Linked DNA regions of Homo sapiens. The protein of the gene in region 1 purifies or fractionates together with the protein of each later gene. This does not show direct contact. Each region holds a gene or a part of one and is shown on either strand. Other genes may lie near its edges.

Region 1 (3,518 bases):
GTGGGTGGCTCTGGACCTAGCTTTGCAGCCTGGGCTGCCACCGGTGACCTGCGAGCTTGAGCATCTTTTCACGTCGTTGCTGGGTCATCCTCCAGCGAGGTGCCTGTTCAGGTCTGGTGACCATTTCCACTGTGCCTTTTCTGGCTGACATGTCAGAGTTCTTTATATGATTTGAATAAAGCTCTGTTAGCTAAATGTGTTGCAAATAGCTTTTTCGGTCTGTGATTATCTTTTGAGTTTTACAAATTGTTTTTGAAGAACAGAGGTTCTGGATTTTATGTGGTTCAGTTTGCCAATCTCTTCCTTTATGGATTCTGTTTTTAATGTCTTAGTTAAGCAGTCTTTCCTCACTAACAGGTCAAAATATGTATTCTGAATTTTTCTGGAAGCTTCACAGTTCAACCTAAAATCTTTCCTTTAGGTCATTAATCCACCTGGGGCTGAGTTGTGTGTATAGTGTGAAGTGCTGTCCCCTCTCCTTGTTCTCAGATGAGGGCCAGCTACCCTGCACCCTGCATGAAGAGCCCGGCCCCCCTGTTCACCCATGCAACTGCCCCCTGAGCCCCTCAGTATCCTTCATCAGGGGTCTGCTTCTCACCCTCTCTCTGGTTCCAGGTGGTCTGTTTGTCAGTCCCTGTGCCAATACCACACTGTCTTCATTATCATGGCTTCTACTTTTTAAAAATCACCTCTATTGAGGTATACTTTATATGGAATAAATGCATACACTTCAAGTGTGCAGTTTGATACATTTGGACAAGCATATATAATCTTGTAACGCTGCGCCAGTCAAGACTGAGAACAGTCCCAGCACCCTAGAAAGTCCCCGTGCTCCACAGGCAACCCCCGCTGCCCTCTCAAGCCCCCGGCCTGGTTTCTGCCACTGTAGACCGAGCAGCTCTGAGTGTCCTAGTGCCCATGATCATCAGCCGAGCAGTTCTGAGTGTCCTAGTGCCCATCATCATCAGCCGAGCAGCTCTGAGTGTCCTAGTGCCCATCATCGTCAGCCGGGCAGTTCTGAGTGTCCTAGTGCCCATCATCGTCAGCCTGGCAGTTCTGTCTGTCCTAGTGCCCATCATCATCAGCCGAGCAGCTCTGAGTGTCCTAGTGCCCATCATCGTCAGCCGGGCAGTTCTGTGTGTCCTAGTGCCCATTATTGTCAGCCGAGCAGCTCTGAGTGTCCTAGTGCCCATCATCGTCAGCCGAGCAGCTCTGTGTGTCCTAGTGCCCATCATCGTCAGCCGGGCAGTTCTGTGTGTCCTAGTGCCCATCATCGTCAGCCGGGCAGTTCTGTGTGTCCTAGTGCCCATTATCGTCAGCCGGGCAGCTCTGCGTGTCCTAGTGCCCATTATCATCAGCCGAGCAGCTCTGAGTGTCCTAGTGCCCCTCATCATCAGCCGGGCAGTTCTGAGTGTCCTAGTGCCCATGATCATCAGCCAAGCAGTTCTGTGTGTCCTAGTGCCCATCATCATCAGCCGAGCAGCTCTGAGTGTCCTAGTGCCCATCATCGTCAGCCGGGCAGCTCTGCGTGTCCTAGTGCCCATCATCATCAGCCGAGCAGCTCTGAGTGTCCTAGTGCCCCTCATCATCAGCCGGGCAGTTCTGAGTGTCCTAGTGCCCATCATCAGCCGAGCAGCTCTGTGTGTCCTAGTGCCCATTATCATCAGCCGAGCAGCTCTGAGTGTCCTAGTGCCCATTATCATCAGCCGAGCAGCTCTGCGTGTCCTAGTGCCCATTATCATCAGCCGAGCAGCTCTGAGTGTCCTAGTGCCCCTCATCATCAGCCGGGCAGTTCTGAGTGTCCTAGTGCCCATCATCATCAGCCGGGCAGCTCTGAGTGTCCTAGTGCCCCTCATCATCAGCCGGGCAGCTCTGAGTGTCCTAGTGCCCATTATCATCAGCCGAGCAGCTCTGAGTGTCCTAGTGCCCATTATCATCAGCCGAGCAGCTCTGTGTGTCCTAGTGCCCATTATCATCAGCCGGGCAGCTGAGTGTCCTAGTGCCCATTATCATCAGCCGAGCAGCTCTGAGTGTCCTAGTGCCCATCATCGTCAGCCGAGCAGCTCTGCGTGTCCTAGTGCCCATCATCGTCAGCCGAGCAGCTCTGCGTGTCCTAGTGCCCGTCATCGTCAGCCGAGCAGCTCTGAGTGTCCTAGTGCCCATCATCGTCAGCCGAGCAGCTCTGAGTGTCCTAGTGCCCATCATTATCATCAGTGGAGTCACAGCACACAACTCATTTGTTTCCGGTCTCCTTTCCTCACTGAAACGCTCTCAAGATTCAGCAGTTCTGCTGCATGTGCCACGTCTGCTTGTTGCTGTGTGGTGGTCCACCAGTGAGCTTGTCAGTTTTGTTTATCCTTTCTGTTGATGGATGTTTATTTTATTTGTTTCCAGTTCCGGGCTATTAGGAATAAAGCTGTAAGCATGTGTAGACCTAACTTTGTGTGGACACATGTTTTTTTTCCTCTTGGGTGCATACCTGGGATTGGAACTGCTGGGTTCTGTGGTAAGCACCAATCTCTTCCAGAGTGGCTGTCCCCCTTGACACCCCAGCAAGGTTGTCCCACAGCCTCGCCAAGGGTTGGCCTTTGAGTTTTATCCTGGCCACTACAGGGTGGTATTTTATTGTGATGTTAATTTGCACTTCCCTGCTGAGTAACGATGCTGCTCATCTTTTTGTTGTACTTATTTGCCACTTGTATTTCTTGTTTTGTGAAATGAACATTCAGATTTTTTGCCCATTTGTTTAAGTGTTTGTGTTATTCCTGAGTTGTAAGAGCCTGTTGTTTGTTCTGGGTATAAGTCCTTTATCAGGTGTACTTGCCAACACGATATTCCTATCCTGTGCCTTGCCTTTCTGTTTCCTAGACAGTACCATTTGAAGAACCAAATGTTGTTTTTTTTGGTGGGGGTGGGGGGTTTCTTTTCTTTTTCTTTTTTTTTTTTGAGACATTGTTTGCTCTCGTTGCCCAGGCTGGAATGCAATGGCCTGATCTCAGCTCACTGCAACCTCTACCTCCCAGATTCAAGCGATTATCCTCTCTCAGCCTCCCAAGTAGCTCGGATTACAGGCTCCCACCACCATGGCCGGCTAATTTTTTGTATTTTTAGTAAAGACGGGGTTTCACCATGTTGGCCAGGCCGGTCTCGACCTGACGTCAGGTGATCCACCCTCGTTGGTCTCCCAAAGCGCTGAGATGACAGGCGTGAGCCACCATGCGCAGTCTAGAACCAAATGTTTTAATTCTGTTACCATTTTTTTTCTCTAGTCAGTGCTTTTTGTGTCCTGTCTTAAAATTTTTCACCTAGCCCAGGCAGCAAAGATTTTCACCTGCATTTTCTTCAAGAAGTTTTATAGTTTTAAGATATATGCTATTTGGAATTGCTATTTCTAGATGGTATGAGGTAGTAGTCACGTTTTTTCCATTTTTCCTCATACAGATACCTCGTTTCCAGCACCATTTGTTGAAAAGAGAACCCTTAATTTATTAAAGTATGCAGTGCTTTTGTCGAAAATC
Region 2 (3,518 bases), on another chromosome or scaffold:
AGGCGCCTGTAACCACGCCTGGCTAATTTTTTGTATTTTTAGTAGAGATGGGGTTTCACCGTGTTAGCCAGGACTGTCTCGATCTCCTGACCTGGTGATCCGCCCACCTTGGCCTCCCAAAGTGCTGGGATTACAGGCGTGAGCCACCACACCCAGCCTAATTAAGGTTTATATAGTGAAAAGCTAAACACTGAGATTAGTTCTGGTGAGGGATCCCTTGGTGACCAAAAAGCTGTCACCTGAGCAACTTAACAGCGATGCTTTTTTTTTTTTTTTTTTGAGATGGAGTTTCACTCTTGTTGCCCAGGCTGGAGTGCAATGGTGTGATCTCTGCTCACCACAACCTCCGCCTCCCAGGTTCAAGCGATTCTCCTGTCTCAGCCTCTGGAGTAGCTGGGATTACAGGCATGCACCACCACACCTGGCTAATTTTGTATTTTTGGTAGAGACAGGGTTTCTCCATGTTGGTCAGGCTGGTCTTGAACTCCCAACCTCAGGTGATCCACCCACCTCGGCCACCCAAAGTGCTGGGATTATAGGTGTGAGTCACTGCACCTGGCCAACAGCAATACTTTCTTTCCTTTCTTTTCCTCTACCCTCTATGCCAGGACTCCTTAGAAATAAAATATTAAGGAAAGTGAGTTATGAAGATGATAAGGGCAATGCAGACTACAGAATTATGGGTGTCTTTGAACTGCTGCTTCCTGTAAAATGCCAAAAACTTCTTTGGGCACATGATGGTTCCCAGCTTGAGAGATCTGTGAGCTCCAGTTGGAATGTTTCATGGCAACTAGTTTTCTTAATGTTCTTTTTCAGATATATGAAATCAGGGCATCTTTTCAGGAGGATGCTTCCTATTCAGAGGTTGCAAAGCACTTATGTAAGCCTTAGGTGACTGCATGGGTGGAAGTGCACAGAGTTCACCATCTGAAGCTTAATCTGGGGCCAGCAGTTCTGATACCTGTTGTATTTGCGTTACAAATGAACTTGAGCACCGAGGCCCTCATGCCCACTGTCCTGTAAGTGGGCGCTCGGCCTGGATTGCAGCTCTGCCCTGTCTGTAGTGAGGGCTGCCTGCTGCTCCTTTACTTCTCTTCCTGTATTCCTAGGATTGACTTTTGCTTCCTGCTGTAACTACTCTGTTTCTTCTTCCCAGCTCGAGCCTTGGGCACAGAAGTGATTCAACTCTTCCCCGAGAAAGGAAATATGGGAAAGATCCTCCCCGAATACCTCAGCAACTGGACCATGGAAAAAGTCAGACGAGGTAGAGAGACTGTTTCTATATGCTGCCACTCTATTTCCTTTGAGTGTGACCTAAGGCAAACTTCGCTTCTATAGGAACCCCCTTGACATAAGCCCTATCACCTGGCCTGTAAAATGTTTCCACCATTCTCCAGTCAGCTAAGTTCATCTAGGTGTTCTGAATCAGATGCCCCAAATTCCTGGAAGTGCTGAAAATGAACCATGGGTGTAGGTTCTTGCAGCTCTCCAAAACTGCCTGTGTACTGATAATTGGTTTTACCGTGGAGGAGACCGCTGGTCAGCTTTCCTACTTCCCATGAAAGTGATAGCCTTGTAGGCTCACTCTCAGGTCTTGTTTGCCTTTACAGAGGGGGTTAAGGTGATGCCCAATGCTATTGTGCAATCCGTTGGAGTCAGCAGTGGCAAGTTACTTATCAAGCTGAAAGACGGCAGGAAGGTAAGGAAGGAAAAGATAGTCTGCCAAGAGGCCTTCCAGTTCTCCACTCCCCTTGCCTCATTTTTACTCCTTCATTTGACACCAGTAGATTAGTTTTCCTGGCAGTTGCCATTAACCTGATATAATTTTCCGAATTAACCATCCCTCCATTAAAACAGAATGATGAGAGCCAGAGTAGGCTCCTGTGAACCACTTTCCCTTAGCCCCATTCTATCTGTCTCACAGAGTTTTGAGTCCTGGCTAGGGTGGCAGATTTCTGTTCGAATGACATGGGGGATGTGCATGGGATGGGGTGGTGGAGGCTTATGAAATAGAACTTAAAATCCATTTATCAGAGGTAAGTTAACCCATGATTTTTTAAAGTCCCAATTCTTAATGGCATGAAGGGCCATTGTTACGCCTGTAGGCATAAATGGAAACTGTGGTAATTGACTGAATTATTTCTTTTTTGCCTCAGGTAGAAACTGACCACATAGTGGCAGCTGTGGGCCTGGAGCCCAATGTTGAGTTGGCCAAGACTGGTGGCCTGGAAATAGACTCAGATTTTGGTGGCTTCCGGGTAAATGCAGAGCTACAAGCACGCTCTAACATCTGGGTGGTAAGTGTGCTACAGCATGACCAGGCATAATTCATTCTCCCTAGCCTGTGAACAAGTCTGCCCGGTGGTGTGCTAAAGCTCATCAACAGCCTAACCAAATAGGGTCAGAGTGTTTGGAGGCTGAGGGTACAGAATAGAAATGTGTGAACTGCTTGATTCAGAAGACCAGGTATGGCCTCATCTGCAAGCTAGTGGCAGATGAAATGAACAGTGTGCATGCCTGCAGGGGTAGAGCTCTTCCGGTTCTACTTATTGGCAGCAGCTACTGGCATAACCCCTGGTGGGCATGCACATAAGCCTTCAGATGGATCTGCTGTTCCCTTTGCTCAAACTTGAATCCGGAGGATGGAGGATGAAGCAATGTTATAACCTGTTCCCTAGAAAGGAAAATTACTCTGTTTTCATTTTCCTTGAGTACTATTTTTAGCTGTTTTTTACAATCTATTATGACATAAACAAGACTATAGTATGTAGGAACCATGAGGTAATTTCCCCATTGCTAGTTACAAGTGTATTGTGTTTGTTTATGGACTCTGCAACTAAGGACGTAGGTACCTTGGAGGAATTTTTTTCCCCCTCCAAACCTTGTTTTTTTTTTTTTTTTTAAAAAAAAAAAGATGTACTGGATCTTTTTAACCTGTTATAAAAGTAATACGTGGGCCAGGAGAAGTGGCTTACACCTGTAATCCCAGCACTTTGGGAGGCTGAGGCAGGTGGATCACTTGAGATCAGGAGTTTGAGACCAGCCTGGCTAACATGGTGAAACCCTGTCTCTCCTAAAAATACAAAAATTAGCCGGGTGTGGTGGCACAGGCCTGTAATCCCAGCTACTTGGGAGGCTGAGTGAGGCAGGAGAATCACTTGAACTAAGGAGGCAGAGGCTGCAGTGAGTGGAGATCATGCCACTGCCCTCCAGCCTGGGCAACAACAGAGCAAGACTCAGTCTCAAAAAAAAAAAAAAAGTAATATGTGGTCAATGTAGAAGACAGACAAGAAGGAGAGAGGAGAGGAAAGTCACCTGCAGCAACCATTAATATTTTGGTGTATTTCCTTCCCTGTGTTTCCTTGCATGTAGGTTTTATTGTTGGTTTGTTTTATTCGTGGCAAGCATACTATATATAATATTCTGCTCTTTTCCACTTAACACCATAAATGTAAGCATTTTCTATGTTGCTTCAGACTTTGTAAACAGTTTAATGACTATATATTCCATTAAGCGAA
Region 3 (3,518 bases), on another chromosome or scaffold:
ACACCTTTGTACTCAAGCCTGGGTGACAGAGCAAGACTCCGTCTCAAAAAAAAGAGACTCTGCGAGGAAGGGCTGGGTAGCCCTACTGGAGGCTGCCGCATAGACTCTGCACATGGTCCTGGGGGGACGTCTGTGTCCCGCTTTGCCAGAATAGCAAACCGAAGTCACAGAGGCTTGGGGCTCACCCGCGTATGCTTTACCAGGGAGGGCCCGGCACAAAACCCTGTGCTCTGAGCTTCTTACCACAACACAGACCCCTGGCCTGGGGCTTGGGAGAGGATGCCCTGAGCTCCCTACCCTACAGACCTCTCTTTCTGGGTTGGTGAGGGCCACAGTGGGTTCCTTGGCCCCACAGGACCCCTCCCGTGGTCTGAGAGCCCCCGGGGAGGCGTCTGCAGGGGGACAGCATGTACACAAACGTGGAGTTGGGAGGCAGGCTCGCGGGCGGCAGGACCGTGTCCCCTTGCACACAGGCCTGTGCCTCTGCTGCCCTGAGCCTCGGTTCCCCACCTCTGGCAGGTGCTTACTGCCGTGGTACCAGGCCTGGGCACCCCCAGTCTTTTGGGCGCCAGTCATGTCTCCCTAGAAGTGGCCCCTGTTGCAGCCACAAGAGGTCAGGGCCTCCTGGTGACCTCCTGCCTCTCTTCCAGTGACAAGAGGTTTTCCGCTTTGGGGTTTGGAGCCCGGATCCCTCCCAAGTATGAGGTAGGAGAGCCCAGAACCTGAGACCTCAGAGCTGTGCCCTTCTCGTGCCCTCCCAGGCAGAGGACGGCCTGGCCCAGGGAGCCCTGGCTGCCTGCTGGGAACCGGAGACTGTAGGATGGGATTGGGGTGCAAAGCGGGAACCCCAGCCTTCTAGCCAGAGAGGCTGGCCTTTGGCCTCCTAGGACTTGTTAGCTTGAGGGGTGTCTGGAGGCCAACTCCGTGTTCCTTCAGGAGATAGGGAAGGACGTTAGTGTGGAATCCTCTATTGCACATAACAATTCAGCTAGCTTCGGCCAGGCGTGGTGGCTCACGCCTGTAATCCCAGCACTTTGGGAGGCCGAGGCGGGCCGATTACCTGAGGTCAGGAGTTCCAGACCAGCCTGGCCATCATGGTGAAACCCCATCTCTACCAAAAATACAAAAATTAGCTGGGCGTGGTGGCACATGCTTGTAATCCCAGCTACTCGGGAGGCTGAAGCAAGAGAATTGCTTGAACCCGGGAGGCAGAGGTTGCACTGAGCTGAGATCGCACCACTGCAGTCCAGCCTGGCCTGTAGAGCAAGACTCTGTTTTAAAAAAGAAAAAAGAAAACAACAAAAAACTTCAACTGGCTTCAGCAGAAAAAATGGTGTGTGGGGATTTATTGGCTAATGTAAGCCTCAGGCACTGCTGGATCCAGGGAGGTCTGCCTCCCTCTCTGTTTCATGACTCTGCAGAACATGGTCACCCATGGGTTTGGCTTCCCCTAGAAACTCCAAGCCTACCTCTCTCAGTAGGTGGGGGACATGGGGGCCAGGTCGGGGGAGCAGCTGACTGGGGGACATGGGGGCCGGGGACGGGGGGAGCAGCTGACTGGGGGACATGGGGGCCGGGGACGGGGGGAGCAGCTGACCGAGCCCTCTTTAGTAGGCGGGGGACATGAGGGCGGGGACGGGGGGAGCAGCTGACTGGGGGACATGGGGGCTGGGGACGGGGGGAGCAGCTGACCGAGGGACATGGGGCCAGTGGGGTGTGTTGCAACGAGCAGCTGACTGAGCCCTCTTGTTCCCACCCAGGTGTCCCATGACTTTGCCATCAATTTCAACCCTGAGGACGATGAGTGTGAAGGTAGGAGCTCGAGGCAGGCCTGGGGAGGGGAGTGCAGGGGGGCCGGGCTCACCCCCTGCCCCCCACAGGCATCCAGGGCGTGGTGGAGGCCTACCAGAACTGCCTGCCCAGGGTCCAGCTCTACGGCCCCACCAACGTGGCGCCCATCATCTCCAAGGTGGCACGCGTGGCGGCGGCCGAGGAGAGCACCGGGAAAGCCTCTGTAGGTGCCCGGGGGGTGTGGTGCATGCTTGGTGTGGGGTCGGCTGTGTGTGCACCAGCGCGTGGACGTCAGGGAGGCACCTGGCAGAGGGAACAGCCAGCGCAGAGGCCCCCAGGCAGGACAGAGCTCAGGAGGGCGGGGGCCCAGCTGGTTGACTACGTCTCCCTCAAAGGTGCAGGTGTCTCGGGCACAGGGCTGTCCATCGCCTCACACGGTCACGGCCATGGCTGCAGCGAGGCTGCCCCTCTCCTCTTCCTCTGGGCACCACAAGGCCGCGCACATGTCTACTGTTTGGCTGTGTGTGTATCGTCATTTTGTTTACATGTGTCTTTCCTTTGCACAAATGATACGGTGCCGAGAACTGCACTGGATTCTACTCTGCCACCGTGTGGCCCTGTATGTGTCTCTGGGGCCACAGCCAGCCTGCTGCTTTCTTTTCTTTTCTTTTGTTTTTTGTGAGACAGAGTCTCACTCTGTCACCCAGGCTGGAGTGCAGTGATGTGATCCCAGCTCACTGCAACCTCTGCTTCCCGGGGTTCACGCCATTCTCCTGCCTCAGCCTCCCAAGGAGCTGGGACTACAGGCGCCCGCCACCACTTCTGGCTAATTTTTGTATTTTTAGTAGAGACGGGGTTTCACCCTGTTGGCCAAGCTGGTCTCAAACTCCTGACCTCATGATCCACCCGCCTCGGCCTCCCAAAGTGCTGGGATTACAGGCGTGAGCCACCGTGCCCGGCATTCTTTTTTTTGTTGTTTTTTTTTTTTGAGACGGAGTCTCGCTCTGTCACCCAGGCTGGAAGTGTAGTGGCGCAATCTCCGCTCACTGCAACCTCCCCCTCCCAGGTTCGCGCCATTCTCCTGCCTCAGCCTCCTAAGTAGCTGGGACTACAGGCGCCCACCATCATGCCCGGCTAATTTTTTTTTTTTGTATTTTTAGTAGAGACGGGGTTTCACCGTGTTAGCGAGGATGGTCTCGATCTCCTGACCTCGTGATCCACCCGCCTCGGCCTCCCAAAGTGCTGGGATTACAGGTGTGAGCCGCCGCGCCCGGCCCAAAATAATTTTAAACTCACCAAAAAGTTACAAGAGCTCTGAGGTCCTGCAACCCGTGAGGCCAACAGCTGCTCACACATTGCGCTCCTGCTTCACGTCTGTGTAGTTGTTGTATTTGTATGTTTTCTTTTTCAATTTTTTTTTTTTTTTTTGAGATAGAGTCCTGCTCTGTCACCCAAGCTGTAGTGGTGCAATCTCGGCTCACTGCAAGCTCCACCCTCCGAGTTCAAGCAATTCTCCTGCCTCAGCCTCCCGAGTAGCTGGGATTACAGGCTCCCGCCACCACGCCCGGCTAATTTTTTGTATTTTTAGTAGAGACGGGGTTTCACAGTCTTGGCCAGGCTGGTCTTAAACTCCTGACCTTGTGATCCACCCGCCTCGGCCTCCCAAAGTGCTGGGATTACAGGAGTGAGCCACCGCGCCCAGCCCAAATTTTTTTTATTGTGATAAA
Region 4 (3,518 bases), on another chromosome or scaffold:
CCCACCTTGGCATCTTCTCCTCCAACAGGGAGGAAGACCTCCAGCCATCTTCTGCAGCCAGCTTTTCTGTCTGATTCAAGAGCCGGGGTGAGGCTGGGGCCATGGAATTGAAGATAGGTCTCTCTGCAGGCAGTGGGTGGGGTCTCAGCAGCTCAGAGCCAGGCCTAAGGGACACCAGGATTGGGTCTGGAAGGGAAGCAGAGCCATGTGAGGACGGGGTGCCCACGGGAAGATGGGCATATGGGGCACCAATGACACAGGCAGGCATGCAGAGACACTCAGAGCCATGCAGACCCATGCAACATGTGTGGGAAATACAGCTACCTGTGGACAGGCCCAAACCCACAGAGCAGGGCTAACAGATACAAATACCCACGTGTGCCACCCTCAGAGTGAAGCTTGGTTTGTAGGAACAGCACGGTGCGTGCACTGAAGCAGCCCCCAAACACTTCAAACTCACATGAGACCTTGCCCTTGCTTTGTAAGGACAGTCCCACCCACACTGCACCCCACCATCTACCAAGTTCATTAGTTCTCTCACCACCTCCAGAAAGCAGGGGAGGCTGGCATCATGGCTACAGATGAGGAAACTGAGGCCCAGGGAGCAAAACCTACTTAAGGTTATCCAAAACTAGGACTCGGCCCTGGTCCGCTGCCCCCCAAGGCAGAGGCTCTTCCAGTACACCAGGAGGCCCGCTCAGCCACTGGGGTGGGGGTGAAGGAAGTTTGTGGGGGTGGAAGGGAGAGGGAGCAGCTGGGGTGACTGCTTCTGCTGGGCTGGCCCCCGTGTTGGCAGGAGCGGGAGAGTGGCTCAGGACAGGCAGAGTGGGCAGAGGGACCTGGGTGGGGGTTGCTGCCTGGAGGGCTTCTTGGGTCAAGAAGAATTGCAAAAGGCCAGGCCCAGTGGCTCGCACCTGTAATCCCAGCACTTCGGGAGGCCGAGGCAGGTGGATCACTTGAGGTCAAGAGTTTGAGACCAGCCTGGCCAACATGGCAAAACCCCCATCTCTACTAAAAATACGAAAAATTAGCTGGGCATGGTGGCACGTGCCTGTAGTCCCAGCTACTCAGGAGGCTGAGGCATGAGAATCACTTGAACCTGGGGGTGGGGTGGAGGTTGCAGTGAGCTGAGATTGTACCACTGCACTCCAGCCTGGGCAACAAAGCGAGACTCTGTCTCAAAAAAAAAAAAAAAAAAAAAAAAAAAAGAATTGCAGAGGTAGGGGTGGGGAACAGGGACAGGGAGTCTGGCTGAGGTGGTCCAGGCACCCCACATAGCCCCAGAGTGTAAAGAAGCTTTCCGTGGGGCAAAGTCCCTTGAGTTGGAGTTTTCTGAGCTCTTGGGTCAAGCCCCCTGACTTTCTGGACCTGTATGTGACCATGCTACCCACTGGGGACTGAAGGTCAAGGGCATGGCTTCTGAGGTCATGAGAGAAGAAAAATCCAGGCCCAACCCCTCTCAATTGCTTGGGGCCACTGGGCACGCCATGTTCCTGTCACATTTGCCTGGGCCTCTTCTCTGCCTTCCTCACCTCGATTCATCCCGCTGAGCCACTCCTGGGCCGTCAGGGAGGGCTGGGCCCCTGCTGTTGGAGGGTATATGTCCTCTTGGTAGGATTCTGACTGCAGGAGAAATCCAGACAGTGAGGAGGGTGGTAGGGTAGGCTGCTCAGATGGGAAAGGCCCTTAGACCTGGGAGTCCAGGCTCTCACCAACCCCTGCTGAATTGAGGAAACTGAGGCCCAGAGAACAAAGGGACTTGCCCGAGGTCACGCAGCAGCTCAAGAACAGAGGTGGACCGAGACCCAGGACTCCTGACGCCCACTGATGTCACACTGGCTGTGAGAAAGGCCGCTCTGTGGCTGCCCCATGAACGTGGGCTCCAGGCTCTGGTGCCCGACAGCCCTGGGTCTGTCTTCTCCAGGACAGGTTCCCCACCTGCCTCCCATGCGGTCCCGACTGCCCTTACCCGCCGGGGCACAATCATGGAGATGGGCTCGATGAGGCTTTTGGTTGTGATCAGCTTGTAGAAGCGGAAGATCTCGCAGGAGGACACGTCGAGTCCTCTCTTTGGCATGACACCTGAAGGCAGACAGGGAGGGCCAAGAGGTTCTGGCTAGGCTGGGGCCACAGTGTTAGGGCCAAAGCCAGGCTGCACACCTGGACCTGAACAGAGACCAGTCTCCTCCCAGAAAACAGCTCAGGGACAAATACCGACACTGGGCTGGGCCCTATGTTGGGAAATGGAGTTGAATTAATCAGACTCTTCACCTTCAAAGATTTAAATTATTTTAGCTGAATTTTTTTCTTTTTGACACAAGGTCTCACTCTGTTGCCCAGGCTGGAGTGCAGTGGCACAATCATAGCTCACCGCAGTCTCACACTCCTGGGCTCAAGCGATCCTCCTGCCTTAGCGTCCCAAGTAGCTGGGACCACAGGTATGCACCTCAATTTTTTTATTTATTTGTAGAGACAGGAGTCTCACTTTGTTGCCCAGGCTAGGCTCGAATTCCTAGGCTCAAGTGATCCTCCAGCTTTGGCCTCCCAAAGTGCTGGATTAGCTGAACTTTTATAGGCAGTTTGCTCTGCTTAAGGTTCCCCATCTCCATCCCCACAGCTCCTGTGACCCAAATGCTCTTAATCAAACCGCTCCAGATTCCTTTTGAGTAGGGTTAGCAGGGTGCATCTTTCTCCAGTCCCTTACTTTTAATCTAGCCATGTCTTTATGTTTAAAGTGGGTTTCTTGTAGATTACAGAAATATAGCTGTGTTTTTAATCCTCAAGCACACTTAGAAAGGAACTGAGGACTGCTTCCTAGAGGCTCTTCTAGGTCAGCCCTTTCCATCTCTGCTCTTGTGGTAACTGCTTAACCTTGACCTAGAACACATCCCTCTCTCCCCTGCTGGGCTCTGCTTCCTCTTTCAGTTCCTCCAATGTTGCCTCCTCTGAGAAGCCTTCCCTGACTTCCTCCTTTGTGCTGTTGCACACGTCAAGTACAGCCCCCACCAAGTCAGAGTGTTGCTATGCTGTCTCTCCTCCCATCTGACTCATCCCTGTCTCCCCAGACCCCGCACTGAAGCCCTGACCCTGATTCTCCCACCTCGGCCTCCCGAAGTGCTGGGATTACAGGCATGAACTTCAGTGTCCCTCACTTACCGATCCCCTTCTGTGGGTTATAGGAGCGGTACTCAGTCAGGTAGCTCAGGTGAGGCTTGTCGGCGCTCACCTCGTAGTAGCGGATGTTGCCATCTCCCTGAGGAGGAGGAGAAGGAAGAGGAGGGTGAGATTCAGAGCTGGAGCTCATCAGCTCATCAGCAACCCAGCCATGCAGCAAAGACCTGGCTTTTTTTGATGATCGGCAAACCCATCTCACTCAAGGGAACACCAGGAAACTGGGGGCCCTGTCATCAAGGCAGGAGGGTGATGAGGGGATATTCATTTTATTTTAGATTTTATCTTATTTTTTTGAGACAGGGTCTCACTTTATTGCCCAGGCTGGAGAGCAGTAGTGCAATCAC
Region 5 (3,518 bases), on another chromosome or scaffold:
ACCCATTCTTTCCATTAAGGCCTCTGTAAATTCTTAGAACAATCATACATTCTATTTTTTTTCAAAACTGTCCTAATTTTAAGTATTATGCATCATTGGTCCCATAAGTGCATTAATTTGTTTAAAACCATTTTCTGATTTTTTTGGAATGCAAAGTGTGATTATCAGAGTATGTATCAAGAACATGTACAAGACTTTTCAACACATAGGCCTATTTCTTCCTAGAGAACCCAGGGTGCAGTAACAAAGTGGAGATTATCTTCAAATTCATGATGTTGTTTCTGCAATACAGACGGTTGCTACCACCATGGAATTCTTCAGGGATCCACTTGGGTAATTTTTTTTGCAGAATTTCTCCTCAACTCAAATTGATCTCAAAATAGCAGTTGGGGTTGTCTCAGACTACATGAACTTACATGAATTCTCCAAATTATTCCTCATGAATGTCCAATGATATTACATCTGATGGTGTGGCAGGTGCCAGGTGTTGCAGATGCCAGGAGTCACAAACCCTTAGGGGACTTCATCCAAGTCTCAACCCTGTTGCTAATAGTTGTGTGAACTGGGTCAAGTCTTTAATTTCTCTGAACTTCTAAGTTTCATCTTGTTCAGTGAGATGATCTATGTACAGGATCTAGCATAGCGATTCTCAACAGAAAATCATGCTTCCTTGTACCTTTTGCTCCATAAGAAGAGCACACATAGGCATCTGGGGACTGGCATGTTGTGGGTGAGGAAGGGGGTCACAAGGAGGGAGAGCCATGCAGTCTGAAAGAAGAACATTCTAAAATTGCCATTGTGTTGGCTTTGTCACAGTTGCAAATACTTAAGGCCTTTTAAAATTGTAAATGAAATTAAAATAAGTTTTTTAACTTTTATTATGTCAAATGGGAGTTTGAGTTAAAAAATTAAAAAAAAACTTTTCTAGTACAATGCATGATCCAGAGTAGACGTTCAATGAGTTGAAGCTGCTGCATTTACTATTCTCTGTGAAGTGGTAATAGCCTGTTCTGTCCTAAAAGACAGCAAACATTTCCAGAAAGAATGTCCCTGAGGGACCCATACTCTGCTCTTTGGAATTCCAAGCACAGAGAACACCACTGAGGCATGACACCCTACATGATGCTGTTTTTCAGGGTCAAATTCAGCTATATAGAATTCGTTATAAGTCATACTCCTCAGTTACACCCTAGGCACATAAGGTGAGAAAATCATTCACACCCCACATATCTTTACTCTAAGAAAGAACACCTATGTTCTTTCAAAAGTTACCCAGAAAAAAATGTATGTTGATTTTATATCTAATCCAAGCAATCCCGGGTAAAAAGTTGTGGCAATTGTGATTAAAGCTACAGGAGAAACTCTTTGCAACAAAGGAGACGAGAAACAATGAAAGTTAGGACTAGGTATACAGGATGCGAGTTGGCAGGAAAAGGGCAGCTTTATACAGTGAGTGATACTAGCAGTGCTAAAGGCCCTCAAATGTTTAAGGGATTCAATTCATATTTTTGACCTAAAGATAAGTATTCCTTCTAAAATATGAAAAAATAAGATCAAAATTAACAAGTTTACAATTAAATATATGAAAATGAAATCTATGCTGATTTTTCTATTTAGTATTCATAAGAATTTCATTAATTTTAGAAGGAAATTGTGTGCTAGATTCTCTCCATCCTAAAGAATTTCCAAGGCTTCATGCTGGTTGCCGAAAATCAGACAGTAGTAAATGAAATGAATTGTTCTTGGGAAAGTAACTTCAAAAGCAAAGTCATATTAATCCTTTCAAAGTATTTACAGTGAAAAATATATTTAATAGAAGATTGGGTGTATTTTAATGTTTTCATAAAATGTGAGTTAGAGTTTTTAAAATAAGACCTGAAAGGTTTTTAAATGACCCTGTTTAGAAACCTGCTTGCACGGGCCAATGGGGGTCTGGAAGCTATCATTTCCCAAAGTGCAAAAATATACTTTAAGATACATTTTTCTTTGTTCAAGTTCCAATTCTTCTTGTTGTTTTACAAATTATGCCTTACTATTTTATCCTTTGGGGCAAAAAAAAATTATACTTTTGAATAGTATTCTTTAATTACTTTCTAAGCACCAATCACAAATTTTCATTTTCTAAAATTTCAGGCTTCCTATTTCCATGGTAAATTATTGATGAAATTATAATCTTATTGAACAAAAGAGAAGCTACACAAGAATGTATTCATTCAGGATACAGAGTACATAAATGTTTAGCTTAGGTAAGTTTTATGGCAGAGAAACCATACTAGAAAAAAAAAATCACGACAGAGAAACATGAGCCAAGACATTCCTAGATAATTATGAATTCTCAAGTCATAACTCTTAAAATGATAGGTGATACTAACTAGCATATACTTTAACATTCTTGTACAGACATGTTCATGTATGCTTAAAATAAATACCAAAAAGTATGTTCCATTTCACATAATTATTTTTATTATCTTTCTCTATGCAGGTGCACTGTTTAAGTTCCAGGAATAAAAGTAAGATTTGTTTCTCCTCTTCTGATATAAAGTCTGATTCTTATTGGCAAATAAACAATTATATTTAAGACTGAACTGATTGTTTTATACCTCCAAGTTTTCATCAGGTGACACATAAATAAAAATTAGCATGAGACCAAAACTGTGATTTTTCCTTTCCCTATAAATACTTTCAAAGCAACTTAAATAGATAAAACATTAACAAAAATAAACTAAGTTCAGGCAAGCCACCAACAGCCACCAACAGCTACCAATTGACTTGAGTCCCAGTTAAATAACTAAGGAAATTGAAAAGGAAAACAACCACATTAAAGCTACCTAAAGAAGATGTCAGTGTGACACCACCCAGTATTTCATTGTCTGGACATGGCAATGCAGGAAAGTTCTTTTCAAATCATAAAAGAACTTGGTTTTAAAGTCTGATTTTTCATTTTGCTAAAAATATACTATATTCTTATGTTTCTTGCATAAATATTTTAGCTTAACAAACAAGCATGCAATTAATTTATAATTTTAAAGTTAACACAAATTAGCACGTACTCATGGATGTTTTTACATCCCAAACTTCAGACTTGAGGGTCTAAAAGTCCATGGCAGCCTGAAGCCTATTTGATTCCTTATGGTCTATTTCAATCTGAGAACTTTTTTATCCCTTTCATCCTTTAGCTAATATATTATTAGCATCAAAACAACAATAAAAATAGATATTTTCTCACTAAACCTTCTTTTTAAAGTTTAATAAAAAGCAAAAAGTAGTTTTTAAATAAAGCATAAGAAAATTCAGGCACAAAACACATTCAATAAAACATAAAGTTATGATACTATTTTATGGACCTAAACTTATTACACCTAACTGATAAATTATGTGCCTTAAATGCTTGATAAAAGTATTATCTAGTCTTAGGATACTTTTGCCTGTATATAGAAAATTAATTATAGTTCATGACACATTATTTTTTAAAAAAGCTTTTATATTTACTGAATTAGGATATACATATAGGAAAGAAA

Evidence for each region.
Region 2: the proteins of THAP4 (region 1) and AIFM1 purify together in Homo sapiens (affinity purification with mass spectrometry; one large-scale study listed by BioGRID and IntAct). This does not show direct contact.
Region 3: the proteins of THAP4 (region 1) and CPNE7 purify together in Homo sapiens (affinity purification with mass spectrometry; one large-scale study listed by BioGRID and IntAct). This does not show direct contact.
Region 4: the proteins of THAP4 (region 1) and CORO2A purify together in Homo sapiens (affinity purification with mass spectrometry; 2 studies listed by BioGRID and IntAct, with this or other methods). This does not show direct contact.
Region 5: the proteins of THAP4 (region 1) and SERPINB7 purify together in Homo sapiens (affinity purification with mass spectrometry; one large-scale study listed by BioGRID and IntAct). This does not show direct contact.

What each region holds. Positions count from the first base shown.
Region 1 is NC_000002.12:241,588,641-241,592,158, reverse strand, and holds part of THAP4 (peroxynitrite isomerase THAP4), read left to right. Parts: intron 1-3,518. UniProt on the Homo sapiens protein: Heme-binding protein able to scavenge peroxynitrite and to protect free L-tyrosine against peroxynitrite-mediated nitration, by acting as a peroxynitrite isomerase that converts peroxynitrite to nitrate.
Region 2 is NC_000023.11:130,134,824-130,138,341, reverse strand, and holds part of AIFM1 (apoptosis-inducing factor 1, mitochondrial isoform AIF precursor), read left to right. Parts: intron 1-301; exon of another isoform or gene 302-816; coding exon of another isoform or gene 817-824; exon of another isoform or gene 825-1,156; coding exon 1,157-1,264; intron 1,265-1,610; coding exon 1,611-1,699; intron 1,700-2,156; coding exon 2,157-2,297; intron 2,298-3,518. UniProt on the Homo sapiens protein: Functions both as NADH oxidoreductase and as regulator of apoptosis.
Region 3 is NC_000016.10:89,589,247-89,592,764, forward strand, and holds part of CPNE7 (copine-7), read left to right. Parts: intron 1-650; coding exon 651-705; intron 706-1,760; coding exon 1,761-1,812; intron 1,813-1,880; coding exon 1,881-2,014; intron 2,015-2,951; coding exon of another isoform or gene 2,952-2,954; exon of another isoform or gene 2,955-3,518. UniProt on the Homo sapiens protein: Calcium-dependent phospholipid-binding protein that may play a role in calcium-mediated intracellular processes.
Region 4 is NC_000009.12:98,126,638-98,130,155, forward strand, and holds part of CORO2A (coronin-2A), read right to left. Parts: intron 3,254-3,518; coding exon 3,157-3,253; intron 2,083-3,156; coding exon 1,970-2,082; intron 1,624-1,969; coding exon 1,533-1,623; intron 187-1,532; coding exon 1-186.
Region 5 is NC_000018.10:63,778,402-63,781,919, reverse strand, and holds part of SERPINB7 (serpin B7), read right to left. Parts: intron 1-3,518. UniProt on the Homo sapiens protein: Might function as an inhibitor of Lys-specific proteases. Might influence the maturation of megakaryocytes via its action as a serpin.